Regions from separate parts of the Homo sapiens genome. Here all the other regions are reported to be linked to region 4. Evidence: microRNA targets listed by miRTarBase, many of them from high-throughput screens and not tested one by one. Region 4 holds a microRNA gene; each other region holds the end of a gene's coding sequence.

Region 1 (4,000 bases), not on the chromosome of region 4:
TGCTATTCCCTAAAGTTTTATTCTACAAGAGCAAATTATTGTCCTCATCAAGCAGATTTATTCAAAAATGTGACTTGGCCTAGGGGTCTTGTTTTCTGAGCCTTTGGCAAATCCAGCACCTGGCATACAGGAGGCACCTCCATACTTATACTGATGAAGTAAGATAACTCTTAAGGTTTTTAGTCTGAGTAAAATCCTGGAGGAACAGGATTGCCATTTAATAAGGTGGCCATGAATTGAGAAGACAAGGAGCTTGGTCTTGAAAGCTCTTAGTCTGGGGTGTCTGTGAAGACGCTGGTAGGCAGCTCAGGACAGGAATCCAGAGTTTTGGGAGGAGTCATGGGCAGACAGTATTTAAGGTCATGAGATGTGAGTGTAAGAGTTAAATAAAGAGGAAAGAAACATGAAAAGCCACTCAACAGTCAAAGATAGGTTATTTTGGAAAATAAACCTGAGAGGGGCTTCTGGCCGACTTAGGTCAGAGGCCCTCTCTCTTACAAAATAAGAGTATTTAAGGGTTCAGGGTGGGAGAGCTTATCACAGGCTCGGAATGTTTCTGTGTCTCTTTGTCTTGCTTATCTGGGAGGGAGAGTTTTTGCATCTGTTCCCACACATCTTCCTGCAGCTGCAGGCATACCACCCGAGTTTGCTTTTAGCTTCCCTATCTCAGCATGCCTAAAGGGAAAGAAATGTGCTTATTAGGGCCCACTGTTTTACTGGGGCCCATTGTATGAGGGTGAAGTTTGGTGGTTACGAAGAGACTTTCCCTCCTCCCTCTGTGCTCAAGCTGTCTTATCTGTGTTTCATTGTCTGCTCTTCCTGGCTGCATTTCCTTGAAACGCATGAGGTTAGAAAGGGAGCTGGAACTTTTGGAGTTGTTTGTCCAAGATGACAGTGCTCCTGCTCTGTCATTGAGGAGATGGCCTAGGGACAGAGCCAAGGCCGGAGAGGAGGTCCAGGGCCTGTGTTCTTAAAGTTGGGGCACCCCAACTTTAAGATGTGTGTTGGGGTAGGGGAAGGAGTCCAAGACAGAGCCACCCGTGCATGAAGGGGAATCCTAGCAGGAGTGGTCCTCTTGGTTGTTGTTTCAAGGAGAAAAAAGGAATGCACTTGCTGCCGACGTGTCATATCCTGCCTCAGAGTCATTAGGAAGGGGACTGAGAATTCTCACTCGGTTTAGCAATGGGGAGGTCGTGGGCCACCTGGGCAAAAAGTATTTCAGTGGAGTCTGATGAACAAGGTTCAGGAGAAAAAAATCAATCAATCTAGGAGGTCCAGTATTTTGACTAAAAAGTATTCCAAAGACATTCATTTGACTATTTGTTACTGAGCATTTAGGGTCAGGCACTGTTCTGGGCACTGAGGATAAAGCAGTGAACAAAAGAGACACAAAGAGTTTATATCCTGGCCAGGCTCGGTGGCTCATGCCCGTAATCCTAGCACTTTGGGAGGCCTAAGCGGGAGGATTACTTGAGCTCAGGAGTTTGAGACCAGCCTGGGCAACATAGTGAGACTCTGTATCTATTTAAAAAAAAAAAAAGAAGAGGTTACATCGTAATAGGGGAAGATTATATAGTAGGTCAGATGGTGATAATAAGACTTAGTGAGAAAAAGCAGAGGTGGGAAATCAAGGGGTTGGGGGCAGGTTGGTTTTAGATGGGAAAGTGCAGAGTCCACGGGCACAGATGTGGGGAGGTAGGGAGGTGTTATGGGAGCTTGAGGAATGTTCTTTCCTATTTGTTTCTTTTTTCTTTTCCTTTTTTTTTTTTTTTTTTTTTGAGACAGCCTTGCTCGGTTGCCCAGGCTGGAGTGCAGAGGTGCGATCTCACTGCAACCTCCGCTTCCCAGGTTCAAGCGATTCTCGTGCCTCAGCCTCCTGAGTAGCTGGGACTACAGGCATGTGGCAGTATACCTAATTTTTGTATTTTTAGTAGAGATGAGGTTTCACCATGTTGGCCAGGCTGGTCTCGAACTCCTGACCTCAAGTGACCCACCTGCCTCAGCCTCCCAACGTGTTGAGATTACAGGTGTGAGCCACCACGCCTGGCCCCTATTTGCTTCTAGGTTCTGAGAGAAATAGGAAGCAAGGCCATAAGGAGGAGGACAGGCGAGCTGCAGAGGTCTGAGAAGATGTGACACAAGTGCCTAGGGCAGCACGTCGCCTGGATCAAGGAGAGGGGATTGTAGGATACGGCGGGGGCTCAGGAGAGCTGTAGAAACTAGAGAATGGCTGTTTCTCACCAGCCTGGCTGGGCTCCCTGTGTGTAGTGCTGGAGGTTCACCAGGTGGAATGGATAAAGGGGTTGGTGGGTGAACCATGGCCAAGGAGGGTCCACAGGGACAGCTAAGGGGATGGATGCACTGTAGGTGCTGGGAGGCTGAAGAGCTACACGAGTTGGGATGAGGGAGGAGCCAGAGGAGGCCATGAGAGGAGAGGACATGGGGAGGAAGGAGGAAGATCTGCACTCACGTGCGGCCATTGTGTTCCAAGTTCACTCCATGTGTGCAATGGGGACAACAGATGCTCGCTGAGCCAGCCTGGCAGAAGCGTAGTGCAGCTGATGGATGGGAAAACACGAAATGCACCTGTAATGGACTTCAGAGCTGATGCCCTACTCTGCAACTGTGCTGTTTTTCTATGAAAATCCTCTCCTCCTCACTGGTCTCTCGTTGAGTATCTTGTACTTCTGAGTTAGAGCTGCTCACGAGTATTCGAGGGTGCTCTCCACACAGTCCTCCGTGTAGGGTGCTCTCCAGTCTTCCGTGCAGGCAGTGCTATAAGCAGATCACCTGTGACGTGCCACATCCCCAGTCTCACCTTGATATTCCAGCGACAGAGCCACGGGCACATCTCCTTCCTGCAGAGGCTGTCAAGCCCGCTGGGAAGGGGAAGTAAATATTTAGAACGCCCTGTCAAGGGCCAGGCGCCGGGCAGGTATTTTCAAGTGAGTGCTCAGATCAGACAAGCCTTGTGAAAATACTGGAAGATGTTCCTCTCATACTGCAAAAAAGAAACTCCAGAGAAGATCCTGAGAGGGTGAACAGCTCACCCATGACCTTGCCAGTAAGTGGCAGCCAGGAGTCAGGCAGTTCTGACCACTGAGAAACCCGCTGTACCAGGAGGGAGACTGACCAATGAGGTTCTTATCCTTGCAGAGTGAGTCCTCGCTGCTATTTATTTTTATACCCCTATAGTCTTTAGATTAATAAAAATGCTAGAGGAAACATATAATATATAGAAAAGTTTCATTTATTCGAATTAAATTATGGTATGAGTTTCATATACAAATAAATTCTGTGTAAATAATACAAAATGCTACAAATTTCAATCTTGTAAAAATGCAAAAATACTTGTAATACTATACATATATAATTCCTTTCACATGACCAACATGTACAGTAGTTGACACGATGCACACGCGCTTCCCCCCCACAGCTGAGGCTGCTGAGACAGCATCAAGCCTTCGCTTCTGTGACGTCAGCGCTCCCTCCCGCGGCTGCCTCACGGTGAGCCAGCAGGCCCTCCCCCTCACACCCCCAGCTCAAGATGCTTCAGATTATGAGCCATCATCAGGAGGGAAGCTACCTATTCTCTGGCTAGTTAGAAGGCACTGTCATGGGGAAACTGGGTCCTCCTACAGCCTTAACACCAGCCTGCTAAACTGAGAACACGCCTCTACCGTGGAGAAGCGCGGTACATCACTGGTCTAACTCGTTTTCATTCTGCAGCGTCTTCATCGCTAGCCCCCAGAGAGTCATGCTGGAGAAAAACTGACCCTCTGAGTTCCTATAAGTGGTGGAAGATGCTCGACTGCCCAGGGGGTCACCGCCGTGGTTGTCCAAAGCAGCCAGAGAGGAACGGATCATGGCCATGCCATCGGCCTGCAGTGGTTCGCCACCGGCTGGGGTGTCCACATCCGAGTAAGCATAGGCCTGAGGCTGTGTCTGCTGCATCTGGGGCTTGGCAAGTTTACCAGGATCCAAACTCAGCTTCTCCTGG
Region 2 (4,000 bases), not on the chromosome of region 4:
GGCCAGCACTGTGCTTCCCTCAGTGAGCCAGTTGCTATCCCACCACCACATTGTGTCTCCAGGCAGTGGCAGTGCTGGAAGCTTGAGTAGGCTCCATCCAGTCCCAGTCCCAGCAGATTGGATGAACCGCATGGAGGTGAATGAGACCCAGTACAATGAGATGTTTGGTATGGTCCTGGCTCCAGCTGAGGGCACCCATCCTGGCATAGCTCCCCAGAGCAGGCCACCTGAAGGGAAGCACATAACCACCCCTCGGGAGCCCTTGCCCCCCATTGTGACTTTCCAGCTCATCCCTAAAGGCAGTATTGCCCAACCAGCGGGGGCTCCCCAGCCTCAGTCCACCTGCCCTCCAGCTGTTGCGGGCCCCCTGCCCACCATGTACCAGATTCCAGAAATGGCCCGTTTGCCCAGTGTGGCTTTCCCCACTGCCATGATGCCCCAGCAGGACGGGCAGGTAGCTCAGACCATTCTCCCAGCCTATCATCCTTTCCCAGCCTCTGTGGGCAAGTACCCCACACCCCCTTCACAGCACAGTTATGCTTCCTCAAATGCTGCTGAGCGAACACCCAGTCACAGTGGTCACCTCCAGGGTGAGCATCCCTACCTGACACCATCCCCAGAGTCTCCTGACCAGTGGTCAAGTTCATCACCCCACTCTGCTTCTGACTGGTCAGATGTGACCACCAGCCCTACCCCTGGGGGTGCTGGAGGAGGTCAGCGGGGACCTGGGACACACATGTCTGAGCCACCACACAACAACATGCAGGTTTATGCGTGAGAGAGTCCACCTCCAGTGTAGAGACATAACTGACTTTTGTAAATGCTGCTGAGGAACAAATGAAGGTCATCCGGGAGAGAAATGAAGAAATCTCTGGAGCCAGCTTCTAGAGGTAGGAAAGAGAAGATGTTCTTATTCAGATAATGCAAGAGAAGCAATTCGTCAGTTTCACTGGGTATCTGCAAGGCTTATTGATTATTCTAATCTAATAAGACAAGTTTGTGGAAATGCAAGATGAATACAAGCCTTGGGTCCATGTTTACTCTCTTCTATTTGGAGAATAAGATGGATGCTTATTGAAGCCCAGACATTCTTGCAGCTTGGACTGCATTTTAAGCCCTGCAGGCTTCTGCCATATCCATGAGAAGATTCTACACTAGCGTCCTGTTGGGAATTATGCCCTGGAATTCTGCCTGAATTGACCTACGCATCTCCTCCTCCTTGGACATTCTTTTGTCTTCATTTGGTGCTTTTGGTTTTGCACCTCTCCGTGATTGTAGCCCTACCAGCATGTTATAGGGCAAGACCTTTGTGCTTTTGATCATTCTGGCCCATGAAAGCAACTTTGGTCTCCTTTCCCCTCCTGTCTTCCCGGTATCCCTTGGAGTCTCACAAGGTTTACTTTGGTATGGTTCTCAGCACAAACCTTTCAAGTATGTTGTTTCTTTGGAAAATGGACATACTGTATTGTGTTCTCCTGCATATATCATTCCTGGAGAGAGAAGGGGAGAAGAATACTTTTCTTCAACAAATTTTGGGGGCAGGAGATCCCTTCAAGAGGCTGCACCTTAATTTTTCTTGTCTGTGTGCAGGTCTTCATATAAACTTTACCAGGAAGAAGGGTGTGAGTTTGTTGTTTTTCTGTGTATGGGCCTGGTCAGTGTAAAGTTTTATCCTTGATAGTCTAGTTACTATGACCCTCCCCACTTTTTTAAAACCAGAAAAAGGTTTGGAATGTTGGAATGACCAAGAGACAAGTTAACTCGTGCAAGAGCCAGTTACCCACCCACAGGTCCCCCTACTTCCTGCCAAGCATTCCATTGACTGCCTGTATGGAACACATTTGTCCCAGATCTGAGCATTCTAGGCCTGTTTCACTCACTCACCCAGCATATGAAACTAGTCTTAACTGTTGAGCCTTTCCTTTCATATCCACAGAAGACACTGTCTCAAATGTTGTACCCTTGCCATTTAGGACTGAACTTTCCTTAGCCCAAGGGACCCAGTGACAGTTGTCTTCCGTTTGTCAGATGATCAGTCTCTACTGATTATCTTGCTGCTTAAAGGCCTGCTCACCAATCTTTCTTTCACACCGTGTGGTCCGTGTTACTGGTATACCCAGTATGTTCTCACTGAAGACATGGACTTTATATGTTCAAGTGCAGGAATTGGAAAGTTGGACTTGTTTTCTATGATCCAAAACAGCCCTATAAGAAGGTTGGAAAAGGAGGAACTATATAGCAGCCTTTGCTATTTTCTGCTACCATTTCTTTTCCTCTGAAGCGGCCATGACATTCCCTTTGGCAACTAACGTAGAAACTCAACAGAACATTTTCCTTTCCTAGAGTCACCTTTTAGATGATAATGGACAACTATAGACTTGCTCATTGTTCAGACTGATTGCCCCTCACCTGAATCCACTCTCTGTATTCATGCTCTTGGCAATTTCTTTGACTTTCTTTTAAGGGCAGAAGCATTTTAGTTAATTGTAGATAAAGAATAGTTTTCTTCCTCTTCTCCTTGGGCCAGTTAATAATTGGTCCATGGCTACACTGCAACTTCCGTCCAGTGCTGTGATGCCCATGACACCTGCAAAATAAGTTCTGCCTGGGCATTTTGTAGATATTAACAGGTGAATTCCCGACTCTTTTGGTTTGAATGACAGTTCTCATTCCTTCTATGGCTGCAAGTATGCATCAGTGCTTCCCACTTACCTGATTTGTCTGTCGGTGGCCCCATATGGAAACCCTGCGTGTCTGTTGGCATAATAGTTTACAAATGGTTTTTTCAGTCCTATCCAAATTTATTGAACCAACAAAAATAATTACTTCTGCCCTGAGATAAGCAGATTAAGTTTGTTCATTCTCTGCTTTATTCTCTCCATGTGGCAACATTCTGTCAGCCTCTTTCATAGTGTGCAAACATTTTATCATTCTAAATGGTGACTCTCTGCCCTTGGACCCATTTATTATTCACAGATGGGGAGAACCTATCTGCATGGACCTCTGTGGACCACAGCGTACCTGCCCCTTTCTGCCCTCCTGCTCCAGCCCCACTTCTGAAAGTATCAGCTACTGATCCAGCCACTGGATATTTTATATCCTCCCTTTTCCTTAAGCACAATGTCAGACCAAATTGCTTGTTTCTTTTTCTTGGACTACTTTAATTTGGATCCTTTGGGTTTGGAGAAAGGGAATGTGAAAGCTGTCATTACAGACAACAGGTTTCAGTGATGAGGAGGACAACACTGCCTTTCAAACTTTTTACTGATCTCTTAGATTTTAAGAACTCTTGAATTGTGTGGTATCTAATAAAAGGGAAGGTAAGATGGATAATCACTTTCTCATTTGGGTTCTGAATTGGAGACTCAGTTTTTATGAGACACATCTTTTATGCCATGTATAGATCCTCCCCTGCTATTTTTGGTTTATTTTTATTGTTATAAATGCTTTCTTTCTTTGACTCCTCTTCTGCCTGCCTTTGGGGATAGGTTTTTTTGTTTGTTTATTTGCTTCCTCTGTTTTGTTTTAAGCATCATTTTCTTATGTGAGGTGGGGAAGGGAAAGGTATGAGGGAAAGAGAGTCTGAGAATTAAAATATTTTAGTATAAGCAATTGGCTGTGATGCTCAAATCCATTGCATCCTCTTATTGAATTTGCCAATTTGTAATTTTTGCATAATAAAGAACCAAAGGTGTAATGTTTTGTTGAGAGGTGGTTTAGGGATTTTGGCCCTAACCAATACATTGAATGTATGATGACTATTTGGGAGGACACATTTATGTACCCAGAGGCCCCCACTAATAAGTGGTACTATGGTTACTTCCTTGTGTACATTTCTCTTAAAAGTGATATTATATCTGTTTGTATGAGAAACCCAGTAACCAATAAAATGACCGCATATTCCTGACTAAACGTAGTAAGGAAAATGCACACTTTGTTTTTACTTTTCCGTTTCATTCTAAAGGTAGTTAAGATGAAATTTATATGAAAGCATTTTTAT
Region 3 (4,000 bases), not on the chromosome of region 4:
TACTGCACATAGGACAGGCAAGACATGGCGACTTTGGTAAGGATGAAAAGTGAGACTGCCTGACACGGGCCAATTTGATTTTCATTTTGGAAGTGGAATCAGAAATACTCGCTAATTAAATTATATTGTGGGAAGGCATAGAAGAGAGAAAGTGAAAAATCAAGGATGATTTTACAGGCAGATTCCTGGCTTGAGAAATTGCGTGAAAAACTTAGAAAAATCAGGTTTCTGAGAAAATAAGGAGTGGGAAACAGAACATAAGTAGTATTTTCCTTTGAAAGGAAAAAAAAAGATATATCCATTAAATCAAAAGAAAGTGGTAATTTGTATTTTCTCAAAGATGTATAAAAAGCCAAGGGCTGAACATTGAGAAGGCTAGTATTCAAGTCAAGCTAGAAAAAAATATAAAAAAGTAGTAAAATAATTATCTCAAAGTTAGAAAATGAACTTAGTAGGGGAACATAATAAGATCACTAAGCAGTACTGAGAATCCACTTGAGATTTGCAAACATCAGTATGAAAATGGTCTGTTTGATATTCTCCAGCGATGTTGAGCTGCGTGAGAACAGGCATGAAGGAAACATAGCTGTTACTTGGTTTGGGTTCTGAAAGAGAAATAACTAGAGTCAGAGACAAGGAATTCAGGGTATATGCAAGGAAGCAACTATGAACTTGAAGCTAAGCTCAACAAGACAGATGATGCGTAATGAGAGTGAGGTCAAAGTGCAGAACTTCAGCAATGAAGAGGAGTGGTGACAGTGAATGGAGAGTGGAATACTCAAAATCAGGTCTACAGAGTGGAGGTGCTGATAAGGATCCAGGTGTGACCACTGAGAGGCCTCTGATGGGACAGAGAAAAAGACTGGAAAACTTAAAACTCATACTGTTGTTATATTTGCTAGCCACTATTTGTTATCCACAAGGAATCACTAAAATGATTGCTGCAGGGGAGAAGAAAACTAGGCCACGAGCTAAAGTATTCTATGAATGGGCAGAAGGTTCTTCTGGGAGGTAAGATAGTAAGGAAAGAAGGCAAGAATAGAACTTCAAAGACCTAAGGGAGAAAGTCTGAAGTGGCAGTAAAGCAAAAAGGACACCTACCCAATCTCCTGCCCCTGAAGCACACAGAAAGTAAGAATAGAAAAAAGCTTCTATTTGAGGTAAGCAAGGTCCTGAAGGGACACCTCTGTCAGTAATTACGGCAAGGAAGCAACTAGGATATTAGAGGAAAAGACCACAGATGTGAGTCAGCTGCTCTGAACTTAGAAATGTATCATTATGTCCATGGAAGTTCAGCTCATTGGTTTAGACAAGGGGTCAGCCAATTATGACAAGCAAGTCAATCCCCTGGCCTATTTTGTATGGCCGTTAACTAAGAATGGTTTTTATATTATTATTTTACTTATTTATTTTTTGAGACAGGGTCTCACTCTGTCACCCAGGTTGGAATGCAGTGGCACAATCTTAGCTCACTGCAGCCTCTGACTCCCGGGTTCAAGCAATTCTCCTGCCTCAGCCACCCCAGTAGCTGGGATTACAGGCATGTAATCACCTGGCAAATTTTTGTATTTTTAGTAGAGATGGGGTTTCACCATGTTGGCTAGGCTGGTCTCGAACTCCTGACCTCAAGTGATCCACCTGCCTCAGCCTCCCAAAGTGCTGGGATTAGAGGCGTGAGCCACCGCACCCAGCCGGTTTTTATATTTTTAGAGGGCGGCAAACAACACACATATGCACACGAATATGCAACAGAAACTACATTTGGCCTATAATGCCTAATATATTAATATTTACTTTCTGGCCTTTTATAAAGAAAAAGTTTGCCAGTCCCTAGTTTACAAAAATAAGTTACCTTTACTTTGTTCCATGGCCATGAACTATAGACGTTGTCTTACAAAAATATGCCACTGACTTAAAAGTGGTCTAGATGAAGGGAGCACAAGTTATCACCCCAGAAAGAACATGTTCAACAGGCAAGGAGTAAGAACATCTTAAGCATCACTCTAAAGACAAGTTATCTCTGAGGCTGCTTTGATCCAACTAGGAGTGACATGATTATTATGGTCCTAAATGTTATATGCATTCATTCAGCAAATACTTACCTAGTTTCCCGGCAGTGTAGCTTGTTAGTTGTAATCTTTGCTTTGACAACACATGGGAAACTAGAAACAAATGTTTAAGAAGGAGGACAATCTGTCACTTTTCACAAGTTATTCATCTAACAGTAGGGGCTTTTAAGTGTCAGTCCAGATAAAGCAGTTCTTATTCTCTTTAATGCAATTTATGACTCAGTTTTTACAACCATTTTAAGACTACGAGCCAAAAGGGAGAGAGAAGGAAACTTTCAGACATTAACTACTCATGGAATCCTAAAACCACACTTTTACACAGATTACTAACTAATCAACATGTTACATCACTAAAAAAAAAAAAAAATTAGGACTGTAAGAAATGAAATTGCAGAAATAAATTTTATTTTTAATTTTCAGAAGTAAAAAAAGTTATAATACTTTAACTGTTAACAAGGCTTAGTTGATATCCAGTTAACCTAATACTGCATTAATGTTTTTATTCTTTTCTTGAAAATACTCAAATACACCTACATTGTGCTCTTTTAAAAAAAAAATAAGGATACTTACATTTAAAAAGTTTTTTGAGGAAGAAAATTGTACAACATTCATGTTTTTCATGACACTGAATGATATATCAATTTATCTCTTAGAAGAAAAAGTAGCATAATTAAAATCACTGGTTCCCTAATCTTCAACTCTCTCTCCACAAATAAAACCTACCTCTTTTCACAATAAAAAAGCAAAAAATAATATACAATCAAAAGGAGCTAAACTGAAACTCTTTATCCCCTTTGTCAAAAGATAAATTAATTGTGGGAGATCAACATAACAATCATCACTGATTTTTTTTCTTTTACCATTTAGCTCTGGTTCAAAAGATAAATAATAATCTATAATCCAGAAATGTATACAAACTTCTTATCACATTTTCCCTTATTCTGTAAAAAAGGAAAATAGGTTTAATGTTTAAAAGAAGCATTAGTGTGATATTATTACCGAAAAACAATTTTGCTATTATCACAGCTCAAAAAGTACCCACAGGAATCTTTCAGGAAACAGGTTACTGTCCATTTCACAAAACGTGAAATTAGGTGATCATAAATACACAAGAAAAACAAAACATTTTTTGTCCTTAGTTATATTGCTCCCTCCCAGCCTGAAATTCAGATGAAGACTAAACAACTTCTGCAGATCACATCTATCTATTTTAGCAACTTAATGGAAATGAAAAGCAATCTTCATTTTAAAATAAGTATCATAACACCATTTTTGAAACGCAAATGAAACTCTCATCATATAAGAGAATGTCAGTATCAAATTTTTGTATCATGACAATTAGGTACCATAATCAATGAATATAATTTGAAGCTCTCAAATTATTTATTTTCAATTCAAGTGAAGACAATTAGGCCACTGCAGTCATTTCCTCATCTGAATCACTTGATTCATCGTTTAGTTCCAATTCCCCCAAATCTTGGTCTACAGTTATAATAGTTTTCCTCTTGCACGTCTTGGGAATTGCATCATTAGCGCAAATTTTTCTCATTTTAATGTTTGGTAATTTCTTCAGATCAAAGTCCCATTCCCTAGACAAAAGGAAAAAAAAAAAAGAGTGCAGAGTGTTGGTAAGAGTTAATGTGGAAAAACAGGAGATAGTAAATTTTCGAAACTCTGAGGATCCTACATATTCAAAACTTCAAAAGCGTTAAAGGAAAATATTAGGCACAAATTACTAGAAAGCTGTTCTATTCTTTCATCCTCTCTAACCTGAGTATCTCCTTCTCTCATGCTACCCAGATCAAGAATTGCAATCAAAAGTAGGAACTGTATCATACCTGACAAATCTCCAAAATACAGTCAGAAGAGGTTTTCCTTTTCACACACAGAAGTACATCCCAGTTAAGTTTCAGTAATCAACTGTTATTCTT
Region 4 (4,151 bases):
CCATCATGCTGCCTCCCATGGGCTCCTTCATGTCTGCACCCCCAAGTGGGTTGCAGGGATGCCTGACTGAAGGGGTGCACCACAGGTGTCCTCACACAAAGGGACGCCTGCTCGCAGAGCACTGGAAGGATGAGGGCTCAATGGCCTGGGAGGCCCAGGCTGGCTGTGGGACCCAGGCCCTGATGCCTCCACCAACCCCAAACCACCCCCACTGCCCCTGGCCCCATGGTGCAATCATGGCTGGCTTGGGTATGTATTGGGGATGTGCTGGGCTGGGCAGCCTGGACCCAGGCTCCCCCTAAAATCTAGACTAGAGAGGGGTGGGCGCTGAGCACTGCCCAGTGGAGGGGCCTGGGGGAGCTTCTAGGTGAGGCTCTAAGGCTACAGAGCCTAGGCAGGGGTTCTCAGGAGAGGGCCTGTGGCCAGTCTGAGGTGGGCTGGGCCACAGGTCCCAGGATGGACTCCAGGGAGCACTGCACCTGCCCAGGAGCCCCGCAGGTGAAGCAGCCTCCCAGGCCCTGTGTCTCCCAGGGACTGCCCTGGCCTGGGCTATGGCAAGTCCCGTATGTCTCCTGGAGACATCAGCTCCCGTCTGGGTGGCCAGGCGGACTCACGGGCATGGGCCAGCACAGGGTGTGGCAAGAGAGATCAGCTGGGAGAGGAGAATTGGGGACTGCAGGCCTTGGTGCCTGCTGACCTCCACCCCTCTGAAGAGAGCCTGGCTCAGGGCTTCTGGACTCAAAGGAGGGCAGGCAGGACTCCCCAGTTGTCCTGGGCCTGTGTGAAGGTCCCCCTGGAGCTCCTAGGGGTCACCAATGCATAGCCAGGCAGGTGGTGCACTGTGGCAGCTCCAGGGAGAAAGATGCACTGGACCATGAGGCCAGGCAGCAGGGCTGTGATCAGCAGGAGGGTAGGAGAACAGAGGGGCTCAGAGGTGGACGTCCTATGTGGTTGGCTTGCAGGATCCGGGGACACTTCTGACGCTAGGGGACATGCTGGGGCTGTGGACAAGGATCATGGAGTGGGCAGCCCTTGAAGGCATCTGAGACATGCTGATGACACGACGGGCGTTGGGGGCTGACAGTGCAAGGCAGCCATAGGCCTGTGGCCAGTTCTAGGGCAGCTGTCACGGACAGGCACAGATGTCCTGGCTGGGGTCCTGAGAAGCTCCCGAGAAAGGTTTCCATGGGCCTCAGAAGCCAGGCTGTGTCCCACAGCACAGATGCAGGCCCTGGGCATCTTACCCTCCTGGGTGACCCTGGAGGGGCCAATCACAGGTGGGGCCTGCAGAGACACTAAGGCTTCAAGGCCAGGGCCTCGCGGGCTGCATCCTCTGTATCCCCAGGGCTCCCTGGAGAGTCCTGCTTTCCCACTTCCAGGAGACACATCTGCTAGGCAGGTGTGGTGTTCTGGGCCAGGAGCCTCCCACTTGGCATGTGGTCCTGGGCTCTGGGCTCTTCACCTACAGGTCAAGCCTGGGACCTGTTGTCCATGGCCAGGACTGGCACAAATCTGATCCTTTTGTGGAGGTCAGCAGTCTGTCTTCCAGCTTTTCTGCCACCAGCTAATGCTTATCTGGTATGAGCTGTGCCCGGCATTTGCTGGGCTCTTTACACCCTGAGGAGACTGCTCTCACACCCCTGTTCTACAGGGGGAAACTGAGGCTCACTGGGGGTTTGTGGCATGCCCCCGGCCGCAGCAGCTTGAGTGTCTTAGTCAGGTTTACAACCCACTGGCTGGATCCACAGCTCAGGGAGCCTTTCTCCACAGTGACATAAACTGTGGGGTCACTCCCTCAGCTCATGGCTATGGACCTCACGGCCCCTAAGTGCTGGCTGAGGAAGTACGACCATCCCACCCCTCCATGAGGGTCCCTGCCTGGAAGCACAGGGAGCACAGATGCTTCCTGGGTGCAGCAGCCCTGAGCCATGCCCCACTCTCGGGCTCTGCATTAGTTAAGGTTTTCCCGAGAAACAGAAGTGATAGGATGCGTGTGTGTTTATTAAAGGAGATGGATGGCAAGGAATTGCTTCATGAGATAGTGGAGTCTGAGAAGTCCCCAGATCTGCTGCTGGCCAGCTGGAGCCCCAGGAGAGCTGATGGAGTTTGTCCCAGTCTGAAGGCCAGGGGCTTGACATGCATGAAGAGCCTGTACTTCGGTTCAGGTCTGAAGCCTGGAAAAGACCAAGCTCCCAGCTTAAGGCAGCCAGGCAGAATGAATTATCTCCTACTTGGCCTTTGTGTTCAGCTTAGGTCTGCGACAGGTTGGATGGGTCTACCCACACTGGGAGGCTGTCTGCTTTGCAGTCCATGGATTCAAGTGTTCATCTCACCCAGAGCCCCCCTGACACACACCCAGCATAATGTCTGGCCAAACATCCAGGCCCCCTGTGTGCCAGTCAAGCGGACGTGTGAAATTAACCAATGTGGGCTCTGAGATTCCAGGCCCAGGAGACCCACATCCTCCAGCTTCTGCTGATGTGCCCTGGGGTCCCTGGGGACAGGCTCTGGCTTGGTGCCTGGATGGGGTTGGGGCCACTCAGCAGCATGTCACCTGGGCACGTCCTTCACACCCCAAGCCACCCGCCTCCTCTGTAAGTGGGCTGTACTGCCTTAACTGATGACCCCTGCAGCTGCTCTGAAAACTGGTCCCAGTGGAAGTGACATGAAGACCACCTCCTCAGGTGTGTCCCTGTTAGCTAAGACCAGATGAGGATGCTGGGACTGGGCAGGGTCAGCTGACTGCCCAAGGTCCTGTGGCCAGTTAGAGGCACCGCTGGGATCTGAACCCATGTGGTCTAGCTCCAGAAGCCACGCTCCTACCCCCAGGCCATCCCACTGCCAGCTCCTCATGGCTGTTTCTGAAGGTGATGGAGGGACTCACCAGCCCAGGTTCCCAGGACTGTCTGGGCTTTGTGGCAGGAAACTGGGGCAGAGCAGGGGCCTCCGGGTGGGAAGGATGACCCTTTCCCAGCAAGACAGGACCTCGTCTCTTGCTAGAGCCCAGCTGGGGTTAGGTTTGGGATAGTGTGCTCAGGACATGTGATCAGAGGGAAGCTGGAAAGCTCTGAAGGGGGAAGGCTCCCCACACATGGATAATCCCTCATACAGAGACCCCAGACTCAGCATAGGATCCCAGACAGAATGGCCTTCACACGCTGCCTGGCTCCTTCCAAAATCAATACAGGCTCTTAAAATGCTGAAATAGTTCTGGTGCATGCTGAGATTTGTTGGACTGAGTTTAAAATCCTGGTGTGTGTGTGTGTGTGTGTGTGCGTGCGTGCGTGCACTGAGAGTGCTGGTGAGCTTGGAGAGGTTCCAGTCTTAAAAAGGACCCTGGCCCCGAGAGGCCACCTGACCACCAAGAACAGCCCGTGTAATTCTGGAAGGTGGATTTGGGATTCCTGCTTTCATGCCCTGAGGGCCCCTGAGGGCTCAGGACTGAGGGACAGAGGCTGCTGGGATGAAAAAGGTGCATCCCTGGCTGGGAAACTCCAGGCTTGGGTGGGCTTCTGCTGAGACCCAGCTCCATGCAGAGGTTCATACTGCCTGTGCCTCAGGGACCAGCATATCCACCTCCTGTCATCCAGTTGAGGCCTCAGGGCTCCCAGGGAAAGGAGCAGGGTCCCCCCAAGCCCAGGATACCAGGACCAGCCGGGCTCCAGCCCCACCCCTCCTTGTGCATTTCTGCCCTCCCAGGCTTCCCTGCGCCTTCATTACCAACCTTGTCCTCAGCAACCACGGCTTGTAAACCATATTCCACGTGCTTGGGTTTTCCCTCTGGACACACAGGCTCTGAGAAGATGGTTTAGGCAGTTCCCAACTTCACGATCACAGCAGGTCCTGCCAACCCACCCTGGACCGTCCCTAGCCTGGACCAGGGACACCCCACCCATGGGAGGATGGGTTGGAGCTGTCCTGGAGCTAGGCTGGACTGGGCCCTGCAGCCTCCAGGCAAATGCCTTTTCCTTTACAAAGCTGGTAAAGTGCTCTAGGTCACTCACCCTTGGAGGATCTCTCTGCTGCTTCATCATCTGGGAGTCGCTGTCTCCATTCCCAGGGATTCTCTGTGTCTTTAAGTCTAAGTTGGGGATTGGCCCGGCCACACCAACTTTCATCCCATCCGTATTTACACTCCACGGCTTTCCACA

What was found. The annotated mature microRNA hsa-miR-5100 reads UUCAGAUCCCAGCGGUGCCUCU and lies in region 4 at 2,767-2,788, opposite strand. An mRNA with a match to its seed (bases 2 to 7 or 8) in the 3' UTR can be bound and repressed. Matches are read on the target gene's strand: a 7mer-m8 pairs with bases 2 to 8, a 7mer-A1 pairs with bases 2 to 7 and ends in A, and an 8mer does both.
Region 1: the mRNA of ZBTB49 is a reported target of hsa-miR-5100. Seed matches in the 3' UTR shown: 7mer-A1 at 3,552-3,558.
Region 2: the mRNA of NOTCH2 is a reported target of hsa-miR-5100. Seed matches in the 3' UTR shown: 7mer-m8 at 1,850-1,856.
Region 3: miRTarBase lists TMA16 as a target of hsa-miR-5100. Seed matches in the 3' UTR shown: 7mer-A1 at 3,235-3,241.

What each region holds. Positions count from the first base shown.
Region 1 is chr4:4,321,016-4,325,015 of GRCh38, reverse strand. It overlaps ZBTB49 (zinc finger and BTB domain containing 49), which reads right to left. Exons shown (of 8, transcript NM_145291.4): 8 at 3,233-4,000. The coding sequence ends at 3,700. Among named protein-coding and RNA genes, the nearest start is that of ZBTB49, 33 kb to the right of the region's middle.
Region 2 is chr1:119,912,084-119,916,083 of GRCh38, reverse strand. NOTCH2 (notch receptor 2) reads left to right here. Exons shown (of 34, transcript NM_024408.4): 34 at 1-4,000. The coding sequence ends at 778. Among named protein-coding and RNA genes, the nearest start is that of ADAM30, 18 kb to the right of the region's middle.
Region 3 is chr4:163,518,992-163,522,991 of GRCh38, reverse strand. TMA16 (translation machinery associated 16 homolog) reads right to left here. Exons shown (of 7, transcript NM_018352.3): 7 at 2,453-3,658. The coding sequence ends at 3,478. Among named protein-coding and RNA genes, the nearest start is that of TMA16, 26 kb to the right of the region's middle.
Region 4 is chr10:42,996,267-43,000,417 of GRCh38, reverse strand. It overlaps MIR5100 (microRNA 5100), which reads right to left and starts at 2,855; the gene lies at 2,737-2,855. RefSeq lists an enhancer at 2,488-2,988.